Homo sapiens: one gene and its partners. The protein of the gene in region 2 purifies or fractionates together with the protein of the main gene of each other region. This does not show direct contact. Each region holds a gene or a part of one and is shown on either strand. Other genes may lie near its edges.

Region 1 (4,054 bases), on a different chromosome or scaffold from region 2:
TTCTCAAAGAACCCCGGGGGCACGTGGCCGACAATGTACACCTACAAGGGAGGGGTTCCCAGAAGAGGCTCACAGATGCCCTCTCCAGACCCTCATTTCTACTTCTCAAAACCTGCAAATTGCCCCAAAGGCAGGTAGACAGGCCCAAATGTATCTCCTCCCTGAAGGCCTCCCGGATTCCATGTCCCACTTTCTCCCTGTGCCCTGCAATGAATGCACCACATACCTTCCCACCTCTGTGCCTGCCACCTGGAGTACCCTTCTCCTTTTCACTTCTGTAAATCCTCCCCACACTTCAAAGAGCACCTCCCCCATGAAGCTTTCCTAATCCTTCAAAGACTACTCTTCTCTTGGAGAGCTTGAACACTGCAACGAAACCATTCTTGCGTGGTTGTGTGATATGCTACACGGTAATGTGCATTCGTTTCTTACATTCCTTGAGTCACTCATCTGACAACACCTGGGCACTTGGCCACCATGGCAGGAGTTAGAACAGGGGACAGAGTTAAATGTATGAGTTTTGGAGTCAGACTGCAGCTTAGACACCAGCTGTGTATCACCTCTCTGAGCTGCTGTTTTCTCATCTGGAATAGCACATAGCTGGTGGGGTTTTGAGAATGATGGACTCGCTACTGAGCCGGGGTTTCCATAGTTCTGCTACCTGAGATCATCCGCATAATGTCCTAAACAACGTGCCCAATGTTGGCATAGTGCATGCTCATGGGCACCAGCTGTGAGATCCTCTTGGGATGGGCTGGTCAGTGCAAGGACTTGGGCAAATGAGACACTGAGCCAGTCCTTGAGGAGCTGTCAGGCCAGCAGGCTAGCTGGACACACTCAAGGGCAGGGCATCCCCTGGAGATCTGGCACACAGTACTGGCTGCAGCTGTGCATGTGGTGGGAGTGGAAAGAGCACTGGACTTGGAGTCTGGTCTTCTAGTCTGGGCTTCGTCACTTATTATGTGACTTGGGACCGTCACCACTCTTTATGAGCCTCAGGGTCCTCATCTGCAGTGGGCTCCAGATCCCAGCACACAGGGCTGTGGTGAGGATGGAGGAAGCCCTCTGCTGGTGCCGGGCTGATAAAGGACCCTCTGGGATATGGGCATCTTTGGGTGGGTGGGTGAGTTTGTGCCAAGCGGGAGACTTGTGCAGGAAATAACCCCAGATGAGAAAAGAAAGAAGCAGGGCCTCTTACCATGTCCCCAGCTTTGGATGCATCGGTCAGCACATCTTCCAGCCACTGGAACTGCTGGCCAGGGTCCGCCATGTCTGCTGTCAGCGCATTGCTGGTATAGTACAGATTGGTGTTGAGGACCACAATTCGCCCAGCCCCGCTGGGACCCGGCAGCTTCTCACAGTAGAAGGCACCTGTCACAGCCAGGGACAATATGAAGGAGGCCCCCACCTCTGGCCAGACAGGCTTCCGCCCCTTCCACCTCAATGTCCCACTTTCTTTTTCCGTTGCATCTTCCCCTCCCATCTTTCCCATGGGTGGGACATCAATCTGGAAGATCAGAGGCTCTGGAGCCAGGCGGCCTGGATTCAATTCCTGGCTCTGGAACTCATTCGCTGTGCAACTTGGGAAAGTAACTTCACCTCTCTATACTTCGGTTTCCTTATCTGCATAGTGAGACTAACAGTGATGTGTGTTTGCCCATCCAGATCCACTGTCGACCCTTCACTGCTCAGCTGTCTTTTCCAAGAGCTGATCTATGTGGACTAAATCAACAGGCTTCTGTGGCACAGGCTTCTGGTCGGCTTTAACCACTGGGGAGTCCCAACAGCAGGAGACCGAGGAAAGGGAAGAGTAGGGTCAAAGTCACCTTGGGCTGGCTGTGTTTCTGAACCAGTCATTCTCAACCAGGTGCTTCTGGCCCAAGAGAACACTGGGCAATGTCTGAGACATTTTTGGTTGTCACAGCTGGGGGTGTTCCTGAGGGTATCACTCTAGTGAGTGTTTGCAACATTCTGCAACACACGTGGCAGTTGTCTGCGACAGAGTTATCCAGCCCATGGTGTCAGTGGTGGCAAGGTTCAAACCTGCTGGAAATGAAACCACTCCTTCCAAGGGTTGTTGTGAAGTGTCTAGGACCAGGCTGAGAGGGCAGTGCCTCGCACACAGTAAAGGCTCAATAAATATGAACTTAGGAGCATCATCAGTGTCGTGGGGTTTAGAGGAAGGGCTTTGGAGTTAATTCTGGAGTCTGCTCCCAAGACTGCCTTTTCTAAGCTGTATGACCCTGGCTTCCTTATCTGTAAATTGGGGATAAAATCAGTACTTATTCTAAGAGGTTGTTGTGAAGACGAAGATCAGACCCTGGCATACAGTAAGTGCTCTTGATAGGAGCAGGTGGTGTTGGTACCTTTTTTGAAGAGAGCGATGGACTCATTACTAAGCCAGGGTTTCCATAGTTCTGCTATCTGATTGTAGATGTTGTTACTTCCAGCTGGGAACTGGTTTTTGGGGTGAAAATCATGATTTCCCAAAGCAGCATAGACTTTAGTATCTAGGAAGAAAGGGTGAAATATCAAAATATATATGCAAAAGCACTCGGGGGAGTTAATCATTTTCTGTTGGCCACTGGCCATCAGAGCTCAAGGGGAAGAGCGATAGCACAGATGAGGAAAAGACACAGATAGGAAACCCACATTTGATAGAATCTGACTGAACTTTGCTTAGACTTTGGAGGGAAGAGCAGTGGGTTCTTTCATCACAGTCCCTAAACCCATTCCCAGCAGAAAGTTTCCTAGTTAGAAGGAAAGCAGCAGATGATGAGAAGGGGAAAACTAGGTCTAAATGAGTCCGATCGTCATCAGCCACTTGGTAATTTAGTGTTCCCAATTCCTGTTGATTCCAGATCATCTTACTGTTAGGGAAAGGGTCTGCGTCACTCTGGGAGGCCTTAGGAGTTTCACTCATCCATGCAGTCAGCAAGTATCTTATTGAGCACCAACTATGAGCCAATGCATAGAACTGGAAACCAGGCTTCCAGCCCCAGAGGTCCTGCAGTTCAATAGGGTTGACAGGTATTGAGTAGAGGTGTAAGGGATGTCACAGAAAGGGAATGGCCACTTGCTATGGGAGTAATAACAGAGGGTAGGAGTGGGTTTGGGGAGGCCTCCCTGAGGAAGGGGCCTGTGAATGAGGCCTGGAGGTGTAGGGGAACCCATTAGACTCATTTCCTCCACATGAACAGCCTCATTTCTGTTTTTATTTTATGCTCAGTGTCTGGCACCTAATCGGTGCTCAATAAATATTTGACAATCAACAAAAATAACTCTTGGACTCAGAACAGGGCTGGGCCCTTATATGAGCTTAGTCTATCACAGGGAGTGACCTGGAACAAATGAGGGAGGCTGGAGCCTCCCATTCCAGTTGGGAAATATCTCTAACACACCCTTTGCCCTGTACAGCCGACAAGACCTGGAAATGCTGAGAACTCTGCCAAAGTAGGAGGTTGTCAAAACGCATCACTGTAACTGCCTAGAAAAACCTCACCTCTCTAAAGTAAATGCCAGCAGCCATTAAGAATCCATTTAAGAAAAAAAAAAAATCCCTATGAGAAGGGAGGGACTCACTCCTGTGTTTTCACTGCTTCTGTGTGCCCAGCTCCTTGCAAACATAAGCTCCATGAGGGTGCGACCTGGTGTCTTGTTCATTGCCATGTCTTCTACTCCTGGAATGGTGTCTCACCCATAGTGGATGCTCAATAACTATTTGTTGATTGACTAAATGAGTGAATGAATTACCTTATTTAATCCTCATAACAACCCTGTGGACAGGTACCATTATTTTCCTTTTTCACAGGGAGCAGACTGAGTCTTTATGAGATTACCCAGCTAAACCATACCAGAGCTAGAATTGGGCCCTGCATGACAGGGTCTTCCTTTGCCTCCCAGGCTGCAGTGCAGTGGCACGATCATAGCTCATTGTAACCTCAAATTCCTGGGGTCAAGTGATCCTCCTGTCTCAGCCTCCCAAGTAGCTAAGAGTATAGATACACAGCACCACACACAGCTAATTTTTTTTTATTTTTTGTAGAAGCAGGGT
Region 2 (3,759 bases):
AAATACTAGATATACAAAATACAAGACAGTAGCACACAGAAAAACTTCATAACTAAAAAGTTTTCAGCCAATATAGTCACATGTAACAGGCAAAAAAAAACCAATTAAAATTATGTCTGACATATTTTACTAAAGTTTCCTTAAAAATCAAGAATAAAAATCATTTTTATTCAAAAGAAAATCACCATAAATATGTACTACATAAGAAATAACAACAAATCTAGCACTGGGCGCAGTGGCTCATGCCTGTAATCCCAGAACTTTGGGAGGCTGAGACGGGCAGATCATTTGAGGTCAGGAGTTCGAGACCAGCCTGGCCAAAATGGTGAAACCCTGTCTCTATGAAAAATACAAAAAAATTAGCCAGGCATGGTGGCAACACCTGTAATCCCAGCAACTTGGGAGGCTGAGGCATGAGAATCCCTTGAACCTGGGAGGTGGAGGTTGCCGTGAGCTGAGATCGCACCACTGCACCCCAGCCTGGACGACATAAGTGAGATTCCATCTCAAAAAACAAACAAACAAACAAACAAACAAACAAACAAAAAACCCCACAACAAATCTATATTTACAGTTTTGGAAAAAGAGGATTTAACTTTAACACATTAGCCAAGTGCCTTAGAAGCAAACTCTTCCTTTTAGTAATAGCTGACATTTATTGAGTATCAGCTGTCTGCGGGCACTGTTGTAAGTACTTTCCATGAATTAAATAATTTTTTAGAGAGATGGGGTCTTGCTATGTTGCCCGGGCTGGACTGCAGCGGCTATTCACAGGTACGAACATAGCACATTACAGCCTCAAATTCCTGGACTAAACCAATCCTCCTGCCTCACTCGGCCTCCCAAGTAACTAGAACTATGGGCACATGCCATAGGACCTGGCTAGAACTAATTTAATCCCTCCCAACAACCTATGACATAAGTGCTATTATTTATCTCTATTTTACAAATAAAAAAACTGAATCACAGAGAAGTATATGTTCTACTAATTATATGACTGAAAAATGTAGCACTTTATTATGGATAAAGTATTGTCTCATATGTTAAAAATAGAAATATAAAATTAGAGTCCTGGGTGCACTTATATTCCCAGATGCTTTTTTTTTTTTTTTTTTGAGACGGAGTTTCACTCTTGTTGCCCAGGCTGGAGTGCAGTGGCGCAATCTTAGCTCACTGCAACCTCCAACTCCCGGGTTCAAGCAATTCTCTTGCCTCAACCTCCTCAGTAGCTGGGATTACAGGCATGTGCCACCACGCCCGGCTAATTTTGTAGTTTTAGTAGAGATGGGGTTTCTCCACGTTGGTTAGGCTGGTCTCGAACTTCCGACCTCAGGTGATCTGCCCGCCTCGGCCTCCCAAAGTGCTGGGATTACAGGCGTGAGCCACCACGCCCGGCCCCAGATCTATTTTTTTGTTTGTTGTTTTTTTGAGACAGGGTCTCACTCTGTCACCAAGACTGGAGTGCAGTGGCACAATCTCTGCTGACTGCAACCTCTGCCTCCCCGGCTCAAGCGATTCTCCCACCTAAGCCTCGAGTAGCTGTGACCACAGGCACACGCCACCACACCTGGCTAATTTTTGTATTCTTTGTAGAGACAGGGTTTCACCATGTTGCCAGGGCTGGTCTTGGAACTCCTGGGCTCAAGCCATCTGCCTGTCTTGGCCTCCCAAAGTGCTGGAATTACAGGCATGAGCCACCATGTACGACTCAGATGTATTTTTTTTTTTTTTTTTTGAGACGGAGTCGCTGGAGTGCAGTGGCGCGATCTTGGCTCACCGCAAGCTCCGCCTCCCGAGTAGCTGGGACTACAGGCGCCCACCACCACACCCAGCTAATTTTTTGTATTTTTAGTAGAGATGGGGTTTCTTTGTGTTAGCCAGGATGGTCTCAATCTCCTGACCTCGTGATTCACCCGCCCTGGCCTCCCAAAGTGCTGGGATTACAGGAGTGAGCCACCGCGCCCGGCCCAGATGTATTGTTATAACAATATTTAACAATTAAGAAGCTTGACTAGGTCTATAAAATAAAAATTAGAAAAAAATACTTCCTGTTGACCAAATCTATTTTAAAAAAAGAGGCTTGACAATTATAAACACCAAGATTTCAAGATTCACTTTGGAGTCAACATTCCTATTTAAACCCCTTATGGTAAATTACTTAATAGAGAGACTATATATATACATATATATATATGTATATTTTCTCCTTCACAAGTTCTAATATGTGGTTATTCTATAAGCTTTCTTTACTGCCTCCAAATGTTGGCCAAGCACAAATATCTGTTTGTATCCAGAATGTGGTACTAAGTACTTTCCATGAATTAACTAATTATTATTATTTTTTTTTTTTGAGACAGAGTCTTGCTCTGTTTTCCAGGCTGGAGTACAGTAGCGCAATCTCAGCTCACTGCAACCTCCGCCTCCCAGGTTCAAGTCATTCTCCTGCCCCGCCTCCCAAGCAGCTGGGAGAACAGGCATGCACCACGACACCTGGCTAATTTTAAAATATTTTTAGTAGTGATGGGGTTTTGCCATGTTGGCCAGGCTGGTCTCGAACTCCTGGGCTCAAGTGATCCACCCACCTCAGCTTCCCCAAAGTGCTGGGATTACAGGCGTGAGCCACCATGCCCAGCTGAATTAACTCATTTTGTTTTAAAGAGATGAGGTCGGCTGGGTGCAATGGCTCAATGCCAGTAATCCCAGCACTTTGGGAGGCCAAGGTGGGCGGATCACCTGAGGTCAGGAGTTCGAGATCAGCCTGGCCAACATGGCGAAACCCCATCTCTACTAAAATACAAAAATTAGCTGGGTGTGGTGGCATGCGCCTGTATTCCCAGATACTCGGGAGTCTGAGGCAGGAGGATCGCGTGAACCAGAAAGGCAGAGGTTGTGGTGAGCCGAGATTGTGCTGTTGCACTCCAGCCTGGGCAACAAGAGGGAAACTCTGTCTCCAAAAAAAAAAAAAAAAAACAGATGAGGTCTTGCTGTGTTGCCCAGGCTGGAGTGCAGTGGCTATTCACAGGCACAAACATAGCACCCTACAGCCTCAAACTCCTGGGCTCAAGTGATCCTCCTGCCTCACCTTCCCAAGTAGCAACAGTTTTCCTATGTTAGATAACTGCAACTCCATTTTACCAGTTGTTTGAGCAAAAAGCTTTGCTCTGTCGCCAGGCTGGAGCGCAGTGACGCAATCTTGGTGCACTGCAACCTCTGCCTCCTGGGTTCAAGCAATTCCCCTGCCTCAGCCTCCCAAGTAGCTGGAACTACAGGCACGCAGCACCACACCTGGCTAATTTTTTGTATTTTAGTACAGACGGGGTTTCACCATGTTAGCCAGGATGGTCTCAATCTCCTGACCTCGTGATCAGCCCACCTCAGCCTCCCAAAGTGTTGGGATTACAGGCGTGAGCCACCGTGCCCAGCCTTTTTTTTTTTTTTTTTTTTTTTTTTGAGACACACTTTTGCTCTTGTTGCCTAGGCTGGAGTGCAATGGCCTGATCTCAACTCACTGTAACTTCAGCCTCCCAGGTTCAAACAATTCTCGTGCCTCAGCCTCCTGAGTAGCCGGCATGCGCTTCCATGCCCGACTAACTTTTTTTACTTTTAGTAGAGACAGGGTTTCACCATGTTGGTCAGCCGGATCTTGAACTCCTGACCTCAGGTGATCCTCTTGCCTCAGCCTCTCAAAAGCACTGGGATTACAGGCATGAGCCACCAAATCCGGCCTCTTTCTTAAAATTCTGATATATTTCTCTAGCA
Region 3 (4,054 bases), on a different chromosome or scaffold from region 2:
GAGAATCTGAATAGATTGCAGGTCTAGATAAAGAACCACTTGAAATAATCAGTTTGTTTCATGATCCATTTCTAAGGGAAAACCGTTTCCTTCTATTCACATAGCTATTTAATGCCCCCTCATCTAAGAAGGCTTTTCCCATCACCGCATATGAATAGCAGCGCCTTTCTCCGTACTCTGACACCTAGGTGTTTGTTCGTTGTCTTCTCCAAAGTCCACTCTGTTAGAATTTAAGCTCCCCAAGGGGGAGATTTAGTTCATTTATTCACTCCAGATCCCTGGATCCTAGGCCAGTATTGGAAAGTAGCTGGCACATAGATAACTGTTAAATACAATAGTGTAAGTTAGAAAACTTGTACACACTTTTTCAGTGTAAACCCCTCTTTTTACAAATGAGGAGAAAGACTAAGGCGATGCTGCTAATTGGCCAAGCTGAGACCAGACTCCTGGTCTTCAGCCTCCTCCTGTGCTTAGAGAAGATGCTTCTCTAGACCTTTGTTACCCAGCGTCCAAATCATTTTTGCACCCAAACAGGTCTCATGGATGCTGCTTAGCTGGGGAGTAAATCTTCAGATGCCACAGTTGCTTTGCATTTATGCAATAAACGTGTGCAATGCTAAGAAAAAAATTGGTGCAGCTGATGTTCAAGCAGTTGTCACGTGGGAGGGAATTCTCTTCTGCCAAAAAGCCAAAAAAAAAAAAAAGAGAGAGAGAGAGAAGATGCTTCTCTAAGCACCCTCATCACCCTGGATGGCGAGGACAGAAACAAGCATGAGATGGAGAAGACAAAAAAGTCAACACTTTGGCTTATGTGGGTGTCTCATGTCCAAAAAATCACTTTAAAACTATGGTTCTGCTTGATTCTAGAGAGTTCTATTCTTCATAGAGCGAGTGACCACTTCTCCAACTTCCCACCCTCCCCAAACTGGCAACCCGGCCAGGACCTGTAGGCTCTCACTTCCTTTCACCCAAAGCTTGCCAGGGCAGGGCAGGGCAGGTTGAGAGACACAGAATAAAGGAAAAATTAGGGAGGAGAGGGACTGTTCAGGCCAAGGCAGCAGAAGAACAAGAAATCCCAAAGAGACCAGGCTTGAATCAAGGCTGAATCCAGTTCACATCAACTCTGACCCTGCTTGGCTGTATTTCTAGATAACTTTGACATCAGTTAAGCCTTTTTCATTTGGGGTTATGTATTCCTAAAAGAAAAACTACGCTTTTAGGTAAATACCAAGTAAATTACACTTTAATTTTTTTCTTTTGAAAACAAAATTCTTTTGAAATCAGCAGTTTTTGCCAAACTAATACAATGTTACCGCAAAAATTAAAATACAAAAAAGTAACAGATGGATATTAGAATCACCTGAAACCTCACCATGTAGAGATAATTATACTAATAATTTGTTCAATATTCTTCTGGGTATTTTTTAATCTATCTAAACGAACATAGATGTCACACACACACACGTGATTACAATTTTACCTTCATGAGATTATTCTCCACATGTTCTTTTGTAACCTGCTTTGTTCACTGACATTTAACATAATGCTATGGACATTTTTCTCTGTTGATAAATGTGGCTGTCTATCCTAAAGATGATGACTGCCAAGTATTCTATTGTATGTATATATCATACTTTTAAAGAGCCTCTTATTATCGTATAATTAATTTGTCCCCAATTCTTTGTCATTATAAAAATTCCTAAAATATTTTACATTCCCACTAAATGCCGAAAAAGAGCATTTTGGGGACAAAGAAAATATGCATTCCATATTTGAATACATATTGACTAACTGCATTCTATAATAGACCAGCCAAAATTAGACTCCCACTGACAAAGGCATCATGTTTTAAATTTCAACTTGCCCTCTCGTCTTCATGTTAGCTTCATAGGCAATGAATTATGGTTAAAACATATCCTGGGTATGAAGATGGCACATGGGGAATTCAAAAGCACAATAAAGCTGTGGCAGAAAATGTAGATTTCTCCCCACCACCCCTCACCCCAGCCTTTCCTCTTTGAAAACAATGCAAAATTTGAATAGATTTCCAATGAGCATTTATCCTAATGTCAATAATTTAGGATTCCTATCAATTCAAACAAAAAGCATGTCCTTTTGGCTTGGAATACAGGAGACAAAGAATTTGGCTTCCAGGGCTGGGCTCGGTGGCTCACGCCTGTAATTCCAGCAATTTGAGAGGCCGAGGCAGGCGGACCACCCAAGGTCAGGAGTTCAAGAGCAGCCTGACAAACATAGTGAAATTCCATCTCTACTAAAAATACAAAATTAGCCAGGTGTGGTGGTACATGCCTGTAATCCCAGCTACTTGGGAGGCTGAGGCAGAAGAATCGCTTGAGCCTGGGAGGCAGAGGTTGCAGTGAGCCGAGATCTCGCCATTACACTCCCACCCGGCAACAAGAGCAAAACTCCATTGAAAAAAAAAAAAAAAAAAGAATTTGGTGTCCAAAACAACTAACCATGTAAAAAAAACTTGCTCCAAACAACAGCACTTTTGCCAAACTAAAGGCAACACCTGGGCTACCAAGGCAACATCTTTAATCTACAATGTATAGAGTTTTAATTTCTTTTTTCTGAATACTATAGAAATGTATTTTTGAAGACTCAGAGTATCTCCTCTTTCAGGAAGCTTTCCCCTCCCCCCTACCCTCTTTGGCAATTGCATGGACCTCCTTGATGCCCCTCCATGGGATTTACTGTAACGGTGTAACAAAGTTCATGACACTTCCTGTATCTATGCCTGTTTCTGCTCCTGAATGATGAGTAACTTGAGAGTAAGGATGGTGTCTTTTCAGATGACACATAGTAGCCATGCAACAAGTGTCTGTTTACTAAATGAGGGAAAGTACCTAAAGTACTTGAAACAGAGTTGGTGTGTACAATCCTTGTGCGTCCTGAGCTTATCCAAGAGAGTAAGTTATCGTTTGGACATTAAAAAAAAAAAAAAAAAAAAAAAAAATCCCTGTGATGAAGTGTGTCCTTGTGTGACCCTGAGGTTAGGCTTCTCAAGAGTTAACTACAAGCAAGATGGCACTTTTCTCTAAACTATAGGATGTACCAGATTGATGAGTTCATCTATACTCCTTCAGTGTGTTCTTTCTGATTCTCATGAGTAGCCCACGTGTATTTCCCAAATCATTTGAGTAGATGTCTTCCCTGACCTGTCACTGTAACAAAAGCTCCCAAATCCAATTCTCTAAGAACTCAGGTTTAAGATCCATCATATCTAGGAAAGCTGAACATTCCTTACTCCCCATGGAAACTTTGTGGTTACAACGCATAGAAAAGAAAAAGGATTAGAAGAACTGAAGATGGTTTTTCTGTCTCACTACTAAATCTACAAGAACCTCATTTGCTTGACTAAGTAATCCAACATTACAGTAGTAGTGAATATTCCTTCTTATTTTAAGTAGCCAGCACTGACAAATGAAGGCTGTGTTCCAAATTATGGGCTACTGTCTTCTGTGTCTTAAGCTAAGTGCATTTATTCTTTCACTAAGGTTACAGAGCAGCAACTCACAGTACAATTAACATCTCAGTCTTTGTTTCTTCACAACTTCACTATAATTATTCCGCCAACCCTTGCTTAAATGGAAATGAGTCATATCCATCTCCTATTTCTCTAAAAATAAACCCATCTCCTAATTAAGCATAACACTTTCAAGTCCTGTATGAATTGACATAGCTCAACGAATCCTTCTTAGAATATTAAAATGAACTCATGTCATTATAATTTTAAAGAGTATATTGTTTTACCCTTCCTTGAGGAGTAACTCGCTACTATCTCCTGAAAAAGAGAAAGACTAGAAGATGTTTTACTCTGGTATACCATAGCAGTTAAGAAATAAGGAATGCTTCATAGATTATTTTATGCATTTCCTTCTCAGTGGAAACAAATCCCTCACCATACAGTACTGAAATGGCATTGTCAACAATGGACAGAAAGGTCTTGCTTCTCCTAGGCATCAAGGAAATACATTAAAACCTGCCGACTCTTAGGTCTAGGAATCTAACTAAGAAAATGCCAATTCTAGTC
Region 4 (4,054 bases), on a different chromosome or scaffold from region 2:
CTCAAAACTCCCATTTGCAAATTCCTTTTCCTATTGGTGCCAGCCAAGTTCTGACCACTGGGCCCTCAGCTGGTCAGCACAGCAAAGAGCATCATGGACCCACTTACTGACTGTTACAGTGTGGGGGGCACCGTGCTGTGCCCCGCGTGTTACCCCCGGGCAAGTGCAGAGGCATACTGCCTCTGGATAGGCAAAGGCTCCCTGGGGCACCAGCCCCTGAGACTTGATCCAGGACACAAAGTTTGCCAAGCCCACAGCCCAAGACTGGCTTTCCATTCAGGGGCCCAAGACCCCTGCTCTAGAAGCCTGGGGGCCTGATGGTGGGCAGGGCTGCACTGGGATGCCCAGATCTCCAGTCCAGTCCAGGAAGAAGCTTGAAGTCCAGGGCGGTGCTCAGAGCTCCACTTCCAGGGTCTTCATGCCTCCTTCAGCTCTGAGCTCCCAGCATTGCCTGACTTACCGTCGGAGGGAATTGGAGGAATTGGCCCTTGACCAGAGTTTAGAGCTCCCACCCACTGTCCTGGGCTATCAGGACACCCACTGCCCAGCTTCCTTTTCAGAAGCAAAGACTTGCCATCCAACTCCATTTCACCACCTGATCATGGGAGGAAAGCAGAGTAGGGAGAGGCACCAGGCAGTGAACAGTGGCAAAGGCAGCTGGGTTCGAATCCTGTAGGTCCCTGGTGGGTCACACATCTTCTCCTTACTTCCCGTGTGTATTATTCCCATGCTGGTTCAGAAAGTGCTTTCCTATCTCTTATCTCATTTCCCCAGACTCCAAAATTCACCCGCTTCCCCTCTGCCTGTTGGGTAGTCAAGGACTTTCCCCTCTGAGCCTCGTCTCCCTGAGGTAGAATGTGCGTTTGTATTTGGTGACATCTGAGGCCTTCTCTGCCCGCAATTCTGGGCTCCGGGAATCTTAGAAGGGCTCTGAAGAGCAAGAAAGGTGGTGGCAACAGGAGACATTGCACCCCCAGGGAAGGGCTGCGGGCAGGCAGCTGCCTGCACTTCCTGCCTCCTGAAGCAGCTGCCGGTTCTGTGTCATAAGCTTCTTCGAGTCTCAGGTCCAAGAGGGGCTTCCGGAGGCCCTGCCCTTTCCCCAGCCAGGCTCTGGCCTCAGTGACTGCCCGGCCTTACAAGTGGATCTAGGTGTTCTCTTTGCCCTGTATCTCATAGAGTCACAAGAACTTTAGGGCTAGTTTCCCTGGCTTGGGACAGGAAAAAGGAATAGAAGCAAATCAAACTTGGTCCTTGCCCTAGGGAAGTTCATGGTCTGGCAGGTGAGACAGGCTTGGACCCTTTCACCAACCACCCCACATGTTCAGTCTTCTCAGTATTGAGATAGGGGGAAGCCTGGGGACCGCAGGAACCCAGAGGAAGGTGTGATCAGACTAGGCCAGCCTGGGAGGGGCTGGGGAGGCTTCCTGGAGATGGCAGCATTTGATCTGGGCACTAAGAAGTGAGAGGCACTCCAGCGGGCAGTCCCAAGTCAAGGAGCCCAGCTTGGAAGGGGATTTGTCTCCAAGAGGGATGAGCACAGAGGAGCCCCTCCCAGCTGGCCTACCCCAAATTCCCCACACATATATATATATTCTAGATCCCCTAGCTGGGCCTACTGCTCTGTGGGGACAGCTTGGGGGAATACAGTGTAATATCAGCCTCACTGTTCCCAGCTGAATGACCTTGGACAAGGCCCAATCTCTCCAAGCCTCAGTCTCCTCCTTTGCAAAATGAGAATAATGGTGCTTACCTGGCAGGACTGTGGGTAAATAAGGTGTTTAAACATTCTAGTAGGTGCTCATTAAATGCAAGGTACATTCCCTTTCCTCTCCTGACTCTTCTAACTTCTGGCTTCTGGGGCTGGGGCACTAGCACACCCTAGGGCAGGGAGGTGGGGGTGGTCCTCACCCTGTCTGGGCAGAGCATCTTACCATCTTACAGGGCACTTTGTCTTGGTGTTGTGCAGCCAGGCCTAGGGTCAGCAGGGCCAGGAGCAGCAGGATCTGGGGTCTCATGGCTCTGTGTAAGGCGGAGAGGAAAGGGGAACACTGTAAGCCCACTGGCTCCTTCCCACTGCCAGCCCCCACTCCCACCCATTCTGTGCCTGCCCTCAGGGAACCCCAGAGCACGGCTGGAGCTGGAATAAAGATGCTTTGAGCAGGGCAGAGAGCCAGGTGGGAAATGGGCCTGCAGCCCATCATAGTAGGCCTCTCACCCAGGCCAAGGAGCCGCCCATTACCCAGGGGAAGCAAGAGTTTTAAGCGGCAGGTGACTTGGTCAGACGGGGGTTTTCAAGAGACCCCACCTGGCGGAAGACAGCCTGGAGGGGATGCACAGAAGGCTGACAGACCCTAAGGGTTACCCTAGGCCATGCTCAGGGCCAGGGACTGGGGGCATGGAGATGTAGAGGGGGTTTGGAGGGTGGGCCTCTGACTACATTTCCACCCAGGCCACACAAGTCCTCCGTACCAGCTCTTCAGTCCCCACATGCAATTCCTCGTTTTCTGCCCACTCCCCCACCTTTATTTTGCCCTTTTCCTTTTGATTCTCTGATTCTCGAGCCCTTGCCATTGTTCAAGGGCTGGGCCCGGGCCTTGGCAGGAAGTCCCACAGGAGGCCTGGCTGCCCCGGCACTGCTCTGCGGACTTCCCCAGGAGCAGCCTGGCAGGCCCTGTACTTTCACTGAAGCCACACTCCGGCCTCCTGGGCCAGCCCTTCCCTCTAAGAGCAGCCAGGGGTGGGGCTAAGGGGACCGCACAGGCCCTTAGCAGGGTTAAATCCCAGTGCTGCTGGAGGCTCACTCACTCCCTCACTAAGGACATCAGCCAAGTGCTAGGGATGTACAAATCCACCCATGAATTTCATTCATTCATTCACACCTTTACTGAATACCTCCTCATGTCTGGCTCTGTGCTGGGAACTGGGAACTCAAAAAACAAATGAACACGAAAAAGAAGTGACAGTGACGGTGATACAGACAGAGAGTCTTAAAGAGGGACACAGAAAGCCTTCCAAGAGCACCAGGCGCACAGTCACCCACATCTGACTGCTCCCTCTTGTCTCCTCTACCTTTCTGCTGTGTGATCTTACAAGTCGCTTCACCTCTCTGAGCCTCAGTCTCCTCATTTGAGGTTAATGGCAGCCATGCCAAGTTTTTGTTGAGAATCAAACGAGATGCCACCTACAGAGCCTCCATTATGCAGTAGGCCCTCTCCTCAGCACTTTCTAGGCATGAACTCATTCCATCCTCACAAAAATTCAATGACTTGGTTCCATCATCATTTTACAGAAGGGAAAAAGAAGTCTCAGAGAGCTTAGGTACTATGCCCGAGGTCACACGGTGAACAAGCCACCGGCCCAGGTGAGTCTGGCTCCTGGGTCTGTGCCCTTCAAATCCACACTCCCAGGCCTCCCACAGTGGGTGCTCCCTCAGTGAGTGCTGAACCGCGATTCTGAAGGATGCTGCAGGAGAAAAGGCATTCACAGGGCATTTGAGGGCAGTGTCTTTGACTGTTGGAACCCGCTAGTGATGAGCTATGGACGAAGATGGCTGCTCTGAATCCCATCTCTCTTGAAGGCGCACAGACCACAGCCGGACCCGGTAAACCCTATTCCCTGGCTCCCCTCAGGGCCACAGGCGCTGCCCCTGCAGCTGCTCTGCTCTCACCTGCATTACAGGTTGTGCTTTCACAGGAAACTTTGTTCTGCTGTTTAAAAAGCAGAACGCCACCGCCCGTTAGAAAGTTAGCATATTCAGAACTGAGTGAAAACCCCTCCGGCAGGGCCTTCCAGGCCACTGGGGAGCATGCCCTGCCTGGCCAGCTCTGCTCTCCAGCCTGCTTCCCCGGTGTCCCCTCTCACATTCTGGGTTCTGGACACCTCATATTTCCTTCAGTTCCCTGAGCAGATTTTCACTGCCCCAAACCTTCACTTTCTCCCCTCTCCTCTTCTGCTAAAGACCTCCTCATCCTTGGGGTCCCAGCTTAGATGGGCCAAGAGGCCTTCTTTGGTTCCCCAAGTCTGGACTATGTCCTCCAGTCCTCCCAGAGCCCCT
Region 5 (4,054 bases), on a different chromosome or scaffold from region 2:
GGAATTCAATTAAGCTAAAATAATTAATGCTCCCACCATATTAAATTACTTTATACATTTGAGCCACTGAAGTTTTCTTCTTTAATCTTTCCTTTTTATTAAATAAAAAAAGAAAAGTTGCTGCCCAAGTAGGCAGGGAAATAGGAGGAATGGGAACTAGAAGGCAGGCGCATGTGTGCTGTTAAAATGGGATGGTCGTCTTCAGCTGACACAGCATGTAGACTGTTTTGTGCCTTTGATTAAAATAACATTTTAAATGCTTTGAACAAACATATCTCTTTAGACTTCTAAGGGATTATTTTACATATTTCTTCTAGAATGAAGAAATCCATTCGTCCTGTTGCTGAACAGAAAGGCCAAGAATATCTTTCGTCACACATAAAATAAAGATACTGTAGGCTGCTGCAGTATCACAACCTGGAAAAAAAAAAAAAAAAAAAAAAAAAAAAAACAGGGGGGCCAGGGGGTGGAAGGATGAGGACAAAGCTGCCTTGGAGATTAGCTTTGCCTTTTATGAAATCACATTTAGTCACTTTCTTAAACAAACCTGCCACAGTGATCTGCAGCCTCTCATTGGGAAATGCCTTCAATGTGAAATGAGGATTTGGATGTTTTTGGCAAAAGCAGCAAATCTTTCCATGGAAACATAAATAGGCGGCCCGAGTCTCCCTAGCAAGGCCACCCCTGAAAGATCGATGTGCACTGAGGCCAGGCGTCGATACTACAGGTAAAACTGTCCCTGGAATGTGGACCAACAAAGACAAAAGGGACCCAGCACCTCTCTCGCCTGATGGCTCAGCCCGGTGAAGAGACGCTGCTCAGGTGCACATAGCACTCTGAGAAGCCAGTGTTTACATGCCGGTGGCCTGGACATGTCTCAAAGCCCCTTGCATCTTGGAAAGTGTATGAGACACTTCATGCTAGGGCACCCATCAGAAGGCAAGGCCCAGAGGCCAATCTGGTTCACTGATGTCTCCCCAGTGCCTGGCATGAGGCTGCAGGACTCTGCATACCACCACAGTCTCCCCACAAAAGAGAGGGCTCACTAAGCCCCTTGTGCAGGTGAGCAAAGTGAGGCTCAGCATCACAAAGCTTTGGAGACGTGGGGGAGACAGGCTTGCAGCATTACCCTGACTGCGTCCTGGGTGATGGGTCTTGATCAGTGCCCATGCCCATCCATCTCACCCTCCTAGAAGCATCGAAAGCCTGAGTCCCTCCAGAGCCCATGCTACCTTCCATGATGGAAGCATGGTAACGATCAATGCACTCGTTTCCCCAGCCAGCCACCTACTTGCACACCGCAGAGCCAGACGAAACCTCTGAGAGAGAAGTGCCACGGGCAAAAGACTGATTAAGAGCCCCTGCTCATCTAATCCTCACACCAGGCCTGCTGCTATTATCACTTTCTGTTGACAGATGGGGAAACTGAGGCTCGGACCCATGAAGTGGCTAATCCAAAGTCAACCATCAGGATTTGAACACTCGTCTGCATAAACTCTGATGCCCATCTTGCTCCAGCACAGGCTGCTGCTTTTTAGGGAACCCAGGCTGGCCAGGCCCTCCTTTCTCCCCCAGGCCTCCTGGGCTCAGAAGTATAAACCAGAAACAAACACTCTGGTTTGCACAGAGAGCAGCGGCTCCCTGGAAGAGGCTCCAGCATGCCATGGTGCTGGCCAAGAGGGAGGGACTTCATGCTAACTCACTGTGGTGAGCAGACCCACGCCTGGGGACAGAGGGGCCCTAGACCTGTTCTCAAGGTGGTAAAACCAGCTGTCCCAGTGGTCAAATGAGTGAGCATGTCAAAGGGCATATCCAACCTCCCCCAACGGGCACAGTGCTCCAACAAGTTCCCACACCCCTGCCTGGGACCGGCCCCTGGGGTCGGGCAATGTCAGAAGCAACCTCTGAGATCAGGGGGCCTAACTCCTCATTTCACACATGGGAAACTGAGTCCAGAGAGAAAGGAGAGGGGAGAGAATGAGCACTCCCATTCCTAAGTGCCTACCAGGTCATGCCGCATGCAACAGCTCATTCGTCCTCACAGCAACCCTAATGAGGTGGGTTTCCTTAGCTCCATTTCACAGATGGGCAAACTAACATGTCCAAGTTGTGAAGACAAACTCTAACCCAAAACTGTCTGGCTTCAAAATCAGGGACTAAGCCAAGATCAGTAGCAAAGAGAGGGCCAACCAGACTTCCAAATTTTCATTCTGTGCTTCTGACCACCTCTGGATTAGCCCCCGAGACAGAGTCCCCTCACCAAAAGCAAGCAGCCATCAGCCATTTGGGCCTCCCCGAGCCCCAGGCCTGTCTCCTCCTGAAGGTCACCTGGATGGTGGACCCTCAGAAAGGGGGAGCCCCGGCTGGTGGCCCAGAGGCCATCCTGGAAGCCCCTGGGCCTTCCCCTGCACCAGCACACTCAGGCAGAGGGCATGGGACCCAGGAGGTGGCTTCCACAGCAACCAGGCAAGCGCAGCATCCCATACCTGCAATGTTCTCCTGCTTGGGACAGATGCCTTTCGTGGGTGAGAGCAGGTGGTCATCTTCGTCGGGGGTGACTTGGATCCCGATCTCCACCGGCTCGGACACTTTCCTGAGCTCGGAGCGTGAGGAGGGTGGCGGGCTGTCCTTGTCCAGGGCCTTGTCATAGCAGGCACCCAAGCTGCCGCCACACTGCTTCCTTTTGTGCTCTATAAAAACCAGGATGTCCCCCAAGGGGAAGTTCATTTGACACTGGCCACAGGTGAGCAGGTCAGGGTCGGGGCCACCCACCATCAGCCCCAGGCCACTTGGCTCCTCTATCTCCAGACCCTCGTCTTCTTCGAGGATGGCGGCCTCCACATGGTCAGCCTCTGCTGGAGACAGAAAGAAGAAAGGGAAGGGGCAGAGAAGATAGAGATGGGCTTAGGCGGTCACAGCACCCAACTTCCGGTCCACCCCTTCCCCGCCAAGAAGCAGCCCCCTCTGCTGCTGGCTGCCAGAGCTCACCAGGTCCTCCCCGGGGTTGGGGGCTGGTGAGCATCCCCCACAGGACAGATGGGCACACTGAGGCTCTAGGAGCAACGTCGTGCCCCCTGGGCATTGCCACGTAAGTAGTGCCGATCTTACTGCATTCTAGTTTATTTTCTGCCAGTTTCTCCCCAACGTAGTATAAGAACACACACGGACACACGTGCATACACACACACCCTGGCTGCTGACAGCATGAGGTCGTGATGTGTCTCTCAAAGTTTCCAGTATCTGAGAATCACCTGGAGGGTTTGAAAAATCCCAAGGCGCAGGCAGCACCCCTGACCAGTTACACTGGGAACAAACATCGGAATAGTCTTTCAGACTCCCCAGGTGATTCCAATGGGCAGCCAGGGCCGAGAACCAGTGAGCTGGAGCCCTTTCCCCCTGCTGGGCTGGAGCCCCACCCCTCCCATCCCTTACACCTTCATTCATGCCCTCCCCATTCATGCGAATCCCACTCACATTCCTCTACCTGGGACCTGGCCACACACCAAACTAGAAAACAGAAACCCAGATGGGCGTCTAAGGGCCCGTCCTTAGGAGAGAAGGAAGCCCACATGCTCAGAAAGCAACAAGTGAGTGTCAGGTTCCAAAAAAATATCTTAGGAGAAAGCACTGCAGCAGAAGGGAGGCTGGAACCGGCTTGCAGAGTCGGGAAGCAGGCTCTCCTGCCAAGCACCCGAGGCCCGGTCAGACTTCCATTTCTCTGTAGATTTCCCCCACACTCATCAACTCCCCACTGTCCTTTTCTGTTTGTTGATTTTATTTTCACTCCCAGAAAAATGAAAGAAAGAAAATTCTCCAGACTCCAAAAGCATTTCTTGGAAGATATCAAACCACACTTTCAATGGACTGTATGTTTTTATATTTCTTTAGCAGCCGATAGATTTCTCTTGGGTTTTTTTTGTGGGGGAGAGAGTAGGGAGCCTAGGACCCAAATATTTGGAAGCTAATAAATGCCTCAAAAAGCAGCAACCTCCTCAAGGGAAAATTGGAAGACTCGGCAGCCAAAAGTGTCATAAATAAAGAGAAGTGGACAGTG
Region 6 (4,054 bases), about 37 Mb from region 2:
GAGTAAACAACCAGGCAAAGTTGGAAAGCGGGTCATTGTGCAGGACAACTGGCAGTCTCTTTAACAAGCCAGCATCGTGAGGAAAAAGGGACCCCTTGGATTGTAATAAAGTAATGCTTATGGTATTATTTGGCTTATGTAATAAAGTAATGCTTATGGTATTATTTGGCTTATGTAATAAAGTAATGCTTATGGTATTATTATGGTAACTGTATTAAGGCAGTTACCTATCAATGATAATCCTTACCTGAACCAGTAATTACATTCGTGCCATAGAATACCTATAACTCTTATCATCTCTTCAACATTATTACATGAAACTATTTGTAAAGTCATGCTTTCCATTGTTAACTTGCAGATAACCAGATGCAACGTGAAGATCTAGACTGGACCCTGGTTTGATGAACCAGCTGTAAAAACACATTTCTGGAACAACTGGAGAAACCGGAGTATGCCCTGGACTGGATATTAAATAAAAATTTATTGACATGTAAAGATGGCAATTATTAACAACAACAAAAAACAGATTATAAAACATTTCATACAACACGATTGTATTTTGGCAAGCAAACACACACACACACACATACTCTCACACAGGAAACGACCTGGAAGAATATTTGGTGCTTTTATTTTTTAGATTATTTGTGTTTCTGAAATTTCTACAATTAATAAATACTGCTTTAAAATAATCAATGGTTATTTGTAATTTTAAAAAATCAAGGATTTCCATTCAATGCTAGATGCCACAAGTGGGTGACATTCTAAGAAAAAATATTGGCGATATCTACATTGACTAGAAATTTTTATCTAGAACAGACTTTTTCAACTGAAGTTCCTCATCTGAATCTCAAAAACCAGCAAATATGGCCAGGCACGGTGGCTCACGCCTGAATCCCAGCACTTTGGGAGGCCAAGGCAGGTGGATCACTTGAGGTCAGGAGTTCGAGACCAGCCTGGCCAACATGGCGAAACTCCATCTCTACCAAAAATATGATAAAATTAGCCAGGCATTGTAGTGCACACATGTAGTCCCAGCTACCCGGAAAGCTGAGGCAGGAGAATCACTTGAACCCCAGAGAGGGAGGTTGCAGTGAGGTAAGATCGCGCCACTGCACTCCACCCTGGGCGACAGAGCAAGACTCCACCTCAAAAAAAGAAAAACAAAAACAAAAACAAAAAAACAGCAAATAATTTGAGTGTTTTCTGAACTTTGCTGAGAACAGTAGGTAAATAGTCCCATGCTACAGGCTTAGAGGTTAATTTGTTATGTATATAATCCATGCCCTAGGGAATGTATAAGACATACCCATATGCAGTAGGGCTTAATTATCCCTAGGAACTAAACTAAAATATGCAAGGATCTCCTGCTAAGCAACATGAAAAAGAAAAAAGCAGAAAATCTGGTAAAGAACATGAATAAGCAATTCACAGGAAGGGAAACAAAAAAACACTAGTGAGTATATGAAAAGATGCTGAACCTCATTAGTAATCAGAGGCATGCAAATGAAAATGAGATCACGCTACACTCATTGGATTGGCAAAATTAGAAAGCTGGATGATGCCATGTCTTGATGAGGACATGCAGAAATGTAATCTCTTATGCACTGCTCATTATGAGGATAAAGTATTATAACCATTCGGGAGAGCAATTAGATGATATTTACTAAAACGCCGTTTGCAGGTGTCCTGTTATCCAGCAATTCTACTCCCAGCTACAATGACAGGAGACTGGCACAGAATCAGAAGGGAGCATGTACCAGGATGCTCATGGTGACACGGTTTGTAGGGGCAGGAACTGGAAGGCAATCTAGGTCTCCAACCTCAGGGGAATGTATGAACAAAATATGGTGAATGAACACCGCAGATTTCTCTGCAGCTGTTAGAAGCAAAGAACTAGATGTACTTGGAGCAGCATGAATAGATCTTGAAAAAAAGTGCTGAATTAAAAAAACACAATGCAACAGAAACTGATTCACAGCTTCAATGCCATTTATGGACATTTAAAATGCACACATATGCAGAACAATGCTTTAGCTTTTCGAGCATATGTATCAAAACATTAAAATTGGATGGGTGCCCCTGGGAAAAAGGAAAGTAGGCAGGGGACTGGGAATGAAGGGAAAGAAATAAAACTAAAAGACAAAAGGTTTGCATAGACCAATATTGATGAAGTGCCACACACTGAGGAGTGTGCTGAGCTGCGTGAGGTGCAGAGGGAACCTGGAAAGGAGAGAGCAGGAGTATAGAAAAGTACAGCTCTTGGGAGGCTGAAGGTCAGATAGTCAGGTAGCCTGGGGTCAAATCTGAGCTCTGCTGCTTCCCAGCTCTTTCACCTTGGACACGTCTTCCAAGCTCCCTCGCGTTTCTTTTTACGTCAAACAAGGATACAAGATGTATACACAAGCAGATAGCAGAATTGCTCCTGACACACAGTGGGTACATGATGACATTAGTAAATTTAAAACTACAGGCCGGGTTTTAAAACTTTAGTTTTAACATTAGTAAATTTAAAACTACAGGCCGGTGGCTCACGCCTGTAATCCCAGCACTTTGGGGGGCCAAGGCGGATGGATCACGTGAGGTCAGGAGTTCGACACCAGCCTAACAAACATGGTGAAACCCCGTCTCTACTAAAAATACAAAAAAGTAGCAAAGCGTGGTAGCAGGCGCCTGTAATTCTAGCTACTTGGGAGGCTGAGGCAGGAGAATTGCTTGAACCTGGGAGGCAGAGGTTGCGGTGAGCCAAGATCACGCCATTGCACTCCAGCCTGGGCGACAGAGAGACTCTGTCTCAAAACAAAACAAAAATGCTACAGAGCAGGAATGCACTTCCAAGATCTAGTACAATGAATGTTTCTCAAATGCAAGTGGTAATTTATTAATGGGTCATGAAATAAGTAATGGGTCCCAAACAGCATTAAAAAGAAAGATTATCAGAGTACATTTCACTAAAAGTATCTTTTTATAGAACTGTTATTTCAGTTATATATAATGAGTACTAAAATGCATTTTTTCCCTATGGCAGGCAATCAAAAAGTTTGAAAAACATGGATATTGTCCAAAGGAGTTCTACACCTTTGGGCTTCAAGAACCAGTAAGTATTCCCTGAGACAAAAGTTGTTCAGGGAGGCAACCTTTTAATCTATAAAGGGCATTCAAAAAGAAACTTTTATAATCTTCTCTTACTATTGTAACATAAAAGAAAGGACATTTTTAACATTGTAAAAATAGAACAGAATAACAGGCTTTATGTAAAACTCACTACTTTGTACTTATTTTTCTCCCTTCCCTGTCTTTCGGAACCCGAGGACAGAATCCCAGAGGTAGGAATGGACTCACTGAAGGTCACTGAGTCAGCTGTGACAGAGGTGACACAGAACCCTTATGTCCTGGCTTCACTTTCCAAGCTCTGCTCCTCAGAACCCTAAGGGGTCCACAAAAGTGGAGCCTAGCAGGTGGGGTCTCTAGAATCCCCAACCCTGTTTTACTGGGAGTGGCCCTGCTTCTGTGAGATTTCATTTGAATAAAGAATTTCACTGTTTAAAAAAAAAAAAGAATTAGAAAGCTCCTGGGGGGCGGAAGCCATGGGAGAATGCTGCCTCCCAGGATAGGGCCAGATCGCAGAGGTTATTATATTTCAATTTAAATTTAGATGTTTTTCCCTAGTGACATGAGGGAGCTATTTAGGATTTCTAAGCAAGAGAGAGAATAGATCGGGGTTGTGCTGAAAGATAATTACTCAGGTGCGAGTGTAACAGCTGGACTGGCTGCATAGGAACAGTGGGAAGTAGAGAGCAGCTATTTAACCATTGCAAAGGTCCTGGCATGAGGCTGGGGTGGGGGTGCTGCCTGAGGCGGCAGGGATGCAGAAGATGGCACCTCAAATTCTCTGGGGTTATGGCCAGCCAAAGCCAGGCTCTCCAAGCCATACCCCATATCTCCTTTTTTCTGCTCTAATACCTGCTTGGGCAGCTCTCCCAGGAACATAGGCATGGGGACTCCGAAGGCCCTCACCTGCAGCGCCAGCTGGCAGTCCTCAATCAGGCCCTGC
Region 7 (4,519 bases), on a different chromosome or scaffold from region 2:
CCGCCCGCCTGCTCCTCCTAGGCCATCGGGGCTTCCAGGGCCCTCGACCACGTACACCAGGCCCTGGCTAGGGGACCCGACATGCTGGGCGAGTTCCGAGCGGCTCTCAGTGGCGGCGCTGCTTATGGTCTGATGCTTATGGGGCCCGTGATCTGGCTCCGAACCGATGTCCTCTGCCCATGGTGACCCCCACGTCTTGGAAAGTCGCGTCAGTGAAGCCCGTGGCTTCGCGAGCGAGCCGGGCTGGCGCAGACTGGGTTCTCTGGCCGCAGCGGGTCCGCGCCTGACGGGGAGGGTCCGGCTGACTCGCACATCTTCATGGCTCACCCACTGTTTGCTGGGCGCACGGGGTGGGGACCCAAAGACGAATCCCATGCAGAGGTTTGGGTCTAGTTTTGGCAACAGAAAAGGCCGGCACCGCCGGAGTAGGACGCGCGCGCACCACCATCCATTCGGCCGGGGAGGTTGGGGCGTCCGCGGGGAGCAGACCCGAGGCTGGGCGCCCGGAGGTACGAGCAGGACCCTGGCCGGCTCTCAGCTCCCAGAACCCAGGGCCAGGCGGGGATGTCAGGGTCTGCGCGATCTGGGGGGCCCTAGAGGCGCCGGCGGGGCCTGGCGCGGACTACTAGCGGCCTGCGGGAGCCAGGGGTGGAGGGGGCCGCTGTCTAGGGAAGAGGACCGGGGTCCGGAGTGGGGGTGAGAACGAGGCACGCCCCTGAGCCTGCGAAACCTGCGGACCGAGCGCCCGCGCAGGAGCTCGCTCCCTCTGGGCCCCCAGGTCCCAGACCCGCACGATTCTTCGCCCGGTGCCAGCCCAGATGCGCGCGGGTGATGAACGGGCGGTGGCCGCGATCCACGCGCTCGCTCTGCCCAGTCAGCGGCAAATTCGTTCTCTCCTTGATCTCAGTGGCACTGGAGCGTGAGGCAAGGGCCAGGCGGCAGGTAGAGGGGTCGGACTCAGCAAAAGCAAACAAAACCCCAAGCAAACGAAATAAATACTTATACATTACATACACGATATAATATATGTGCGACAGACACCGTATTACTTATTAAAGATATATTTGTAGGTAAACATATATTTACATGTAAACATACATTTACATATAAATATAAATATATATATATGCATGTGTACACACACGCAGACACACAGGTCGCTCAATTAAATTTGAATTTCAGACTAGCGAGTAATTTTTCCGTATTAGCATGTCCCGTGCAATATTTGGGAACATACTTATAACTAGATTTGTTGTGAATCTGAAATTCAAATTTTACTGTGCTTTCTACATTTTTATCAGCAGCCCTAGCTGGAGGTGCTCAAAGGCCTCCCGGCCTTTGAGGTAAGGTTCTCGGGTCGGAAATCCCTGGTCGGAAGAAACGTGGGCGTTTCCTTTAAAGCCCTGCGGCACAAGAACTACAAGCCCCACAATGCCGCGCGGAAGCCGGCGGCGCTGATAGGCTGCAGTTCACTTCCGCCTTCTGACTTCCGGCCTCGGAGGCCGGCGTCGGCTGTTGCAGCCTGCTGCGCGCCCAGGGGTCCCGCGGGTTTTCGGGCGCAGGGTGGCGCCCGCGGCAGGCGGCGGCCATGAACTTCTCCGAGGTATTCAAGCTCTCCAGCTTACTCTGCAAGTTCTCCCCGGACGGCAAGTACCTGGTGAGCGGCGGGGACCTGGGCCACGGGCAGGACATCCTCGGTGCCAGCGTCCCCGGCGGGCAGGGCCGGGGGCGGCCGCGTGGGTGGAGGCAGCTTGGGGATCCTGCAGGTGCGGTGCCCGGACAGGTGCGGGGCCCGGGCAGGTACCCGGGGCAGGTGCAGTGTCTGAGCAAGTGCCCCAGACAGGTGCGGGACCCAGGAAGATACCCTAGACAGGTGGAGGGCCCGGGGAGGTGCCCCAAGCAGGTGCGGGGCCCAGGCAGGTACCCCAAGCAGGTGCGGGGCCCAGGCAGGTACCCCAAGCAGATATGGGGGCCGGACAGGTGCAGGACCCCGGCAGGTGCCCGGGCAGGTGCGGGACCCAGGAAGATACCGTAGACAGGTGGGGGGTCTGGGGAGGTGCCCTTGGAAAGGTGGGTATCGGCAGTGCCGACTGCACACAGGTGAGGGTATAGGAGATGTCGGCTCTTTGTTGTTACTTTGTCACAAAAGGCAAATTGATGATTCTGTTGCCTGTAAACTGGTAAGTGGTGTGGCTACTTTGTCATCTCTACTTCTCCTCTAATTCTCTTCTCCTCTACCACATGCCGAATAAATGATTTAAATACTAGTATTCTATCCCCAGGTAAGGAAGTAGTTGTCCTCATGGCTGGGATTTGAGGTCTTCGTTCCATGGGTGGCAGAAGGGTGCTTAAATCACAGAGCTATAACTTTAAGCTTCAAAACATATAGTGTATGTACCTGGATGCCTAGTAGTGTATATCCTCAGAAGAGAGGGATAACCCGGATGCCTAGTATGTATGTCCTCAGAAGAGGGGGACAATTGGCATTGGAAAGCCACTAAGAAGAAACATGCCTCGTAAAAAGTGGGCTTCGTTTTCCTTATCCACCACCTGTACTAACTGACTGATGTATCATGATGCTTTTTCAGGTTTTGCCACTCCTGACATTCCTGTGCTCTGTCTAGCTTTTGAGAGTTTAACTCTCAAATTACGTTTTTTACCTCTTCAGGGAGGTTTTATTCCAAATCACATAAAATAGCATCAGCTACAAAACAGAAAACCTCATTAGTTTAAATGGCATCTCAGCCTTGGTATATTTTCAATGTGCCCCCCTCCTCAATTAAATGAGAGGTTTGTTTTTTGTTTTTACCATTTATGAAAATTTCAGTGAATTATAAGGAGAAAGATTACATCTGCTTGCTTAACTTGGGTGTTTTTTTCCAGCTTGTACACTCTGGTCAAAATACCCTGAAACACTTGGTAATGATCTGTTACTGGAATCATCTTCTTGAAAGCCCTGAGGACTGGGGAGAGCAGGTCCATGTTTCTAGTTTTCATATCTTGCAGTAGAGTTTATGTGGTTCCTCAAGGTGTTGGTAAAAATATTCCATTTCATAAGGAATTCACTGTAACTGATCACAGTTTTCAAAGCTACAGTGTGAGAAAGTAAGTGCTGTGGTAGCTCCTTGTTCCAATCTGCCGTCACCCGCCTGTCTCTCTTTTCTCCCACGGAAAACTAACGTGGCTTTCTTTTTTGATATCGGTTCATAAAACACAAACTACTTTGACCTTGATAAGTAAAACTAACGAAGCAGTTAATATTTAAACATCAGTTCTTGATCTTGAAACTGTAGTAAAATATACATTCAGCAGGTGAGTACTCAGGCGTTATTTTTACTTGAAATTGTTTGCTTGGATAGGGACATAATGAACAAATATGGACAAGAAGAAACTATCTTTAAGAAAATAGTACTAACACTTAAACATTTCCCGTTTCGTGTTAGGAATAGGTTAATGGAGATAAATGAGCATTTGCGAAGCATCTTTATGTGTGCAGAAGTGAAAGCCTGTCTTTTGATCTTCTGTTGTTTTGGCTCTGAGTTCGGCACTGCATAAGAAGATTGATGCATTCCTTGCCATTTTCGTTGTCATCTGTGAAGCCTCAATTCTTACCCTTTATAAATTTGAGGAAATTGTCCAAAAGTGTTTATAAAACTAGCAGAGGATTTTGGTTATTAGTTCACAGAAGAGCTTTCTCCCAATGCTACTTCCCATTTAAGTTTAGTTTTTAACATACAGATAAGAAGGGACTTAAAAATGTCTTAAAGCTTTAAGTAGCGAGTTAAAACATACTTTTATACTTTACAATAGAGTATAGCAATATTAAAACCTGGCTTGTATATTTCAACATTACCCTTGTATGAACTGAACTGATCTTTAGGGGCTGGGGATGTCACTGGTGATCTAGACATGAAACCTCTGGCAGGAGAGAAGGCCACAGTCACTGAAGGCCAGGGCAGTAGCATTCCGAAGGCCCCCCTCTTTTGGAGTGGAGAATGTCAGGTGCTTGCTTTCTCATATTTTTTAGGCTTCCTGTGTCCAGTACCGGTTAGTGGTCCGGGATGTGAACACCCTTCAGATCCTTCAGCTGTACACGTGCCTAGACCAGATCCAGCACATCGAGTGGTCGGCAGACTCGCTCTTCATCCTGTGCGCCATGTACAAGCGAGGGCTGGTGCAGGTGTGTGCTGCCGTGTCGCTTAGAATCTGGACACCTTCTGAGGGCCCCTGGGAAGGAGGGGTTTTGTTCTGTGCCTTTCTAGTTTGAAAAAAAAGTCCGTGCAGCTCAAAGCCAGTTTTCTTTTGAAATTATAACGTTCTCTAAAGTTTAAGAACATTTAAACTAAGGAAACTCCAACGTAGTCTTAATTTCTAAGCAATATAGTTGAGAAACGGAGGTGTTGACAGCAATCTAGCCACGCGGATGTGGTGTGTTTCAGGAAGTCCTAAGAAGTCGTGTTTTCTTCTGTGTCCAAAGCTTAACTAAATGAGGTCTTAGGAATGACAATGTGAATAAACA

The links.
Region 1: the proteins of CBFB (region 2) and SMPDL3B purify together in Homo sapiens (affinity purification with mass spectrometry; one large-scale study listed by BioGRID and IntAct). This does not show direct contact.
Region 3: the proteins of CBFB (region 2) and ETS1 purify together in Homo sapiens (affinity purification with mass spectrometry, with the first as the bait; one large-scale study listed by BioGRID). This does not show direct contact.
Region 4: the proteins of CBFB (region 2) and LRRC32 purify together in Homo sapiens (affinity purification with mass spectrometry; one large-scale study listed by BioGRID and IntAct). This does not show direct contact.
Region 5: the proteins of CBFB (region 2) and BCL11B purify together in Homo sapiens (affinity purification with mass spectrometry, with the first as the bait; one large-scale study listed by BioGRID). This does not show direct contact.
Region 6: the proteins of CBFB (region 2) and KCTD13 purify together in Homo sapiens (co-immunoprecipitation; one large-scale study listed by IntAct). This does not show direct contact.
Region 7: the proteins of CBFB (region 2) and WRAP73 purify together in Homo sapiens (co-immunoprecipitation; one large-scale study listed by IntAct). This does not show direct contact.

What each region holds. Positions count from the first base shown.
Region 1 is NC_000001.11:27,951,671-27,955,724, reverse strand, and holds part of SMPDL3B (acid sphingomyelinase-like phosphodiesterase 3b isoform 1 precursor), read right to left. Parts: intron 2,511-4,054; coding exon 2,367-2,510; intron 1,372-2,366; coding exon 1,199-1,371; intron 42-1,198; coding exon 1-41. UniProt on the Homo sapiens protein: Lipid-modulating phosphodiesterase. Active on the surface of macrophages and dendritic cells and strongly influences macrophage lipid composition and membrane fluidity. Acts as a negative regulator of Toll-like receptor signaling.
Region 2 is NC_000016.10:67,094,902-67,098,660, reverse strand, and holds part of CBFB (core-binding factor subunit beta), read right to left. Parts: intron 1-3,759. UniProt on the Homo sapiens protein: Forms the heterodimeric complex core-binding factor (CBF) with RUNX family proteins (RUNX1, RUNX2, and RUNX3).
Region 3 is NC_000011.10:128,577,226-128,581,279, forward strand, and holds part of ETS1 (protein C-ets-1), read right to left. Parts: intron 1-4,054. UniProt on the Homo sapiens protein: Transcription factor. Directly controls the expression of cytokine and chemokine genes in a wide variety of different cellular contexts. May control the differentiation, survival and proliferation of lymphoid cells.
Region 4 is NC_000011.10:76,663,940-76,667,993, forward strand, and holds part of LRRC32 (transforming growth factor beta activator LRRC32 isoform a precursor), read right to left. Parts: intron 2,020-4,054; 5' UTR 2,016-2,019; coding exon 1,932-2,015; exon of another isoform or gene 1,927-1,931; coding exon of another isoform or gene 1,909-1,926; intron 1-1,908.
Region 5 is NC_000014.9:99,254,985-99,259,038, forward strand, and holds part of BCL11B (B-cell lymphoma/leukemia 11B), read right to left. Parts: intron 2,856-4,054; coding exon 2,487-2,855; intron 1-2,486. UniProt on the Homo sapiens protein: Key regulator of both differentiation and survival of T-lymphocytes during thymocyte development in mammals.
Region 6 is NC_000016.10:29,919,173-29,923,226, forward strand, and holds part of KCTD13 (BTB/POZ domain-containing adapter for CUL3-mediated RhoA degradation protein 1), read right to left. Parts: coding exon 4,018-4,054; coding exon of another isoform or gene 3,964-4,017; intron 2,790-3,963; coding exon of another isoform or gene 2,682-2,789; exon of another isoform or gene 359-2,681; intron 1-358. UniProt on the Homo sapiens protein: Substrate-specific adapter of a BCR (BTB-CUL3-RBX1) E3 ubiquitin-protein ligase complex required for synaptic transmission.
Region 7 is NC_000001.11:3,647,069-3,651,587, reverse strand, and holds the start of WRAP73 (WD repeat-containing protein WRAP73), read left to right. Parts: upstream 1-1,484; 5' UTR 1,485-1,588; coding exon 1,589-1,657; intron 1,658-4,027; coding exon 4,028-4,180; intron 4,181-4,519.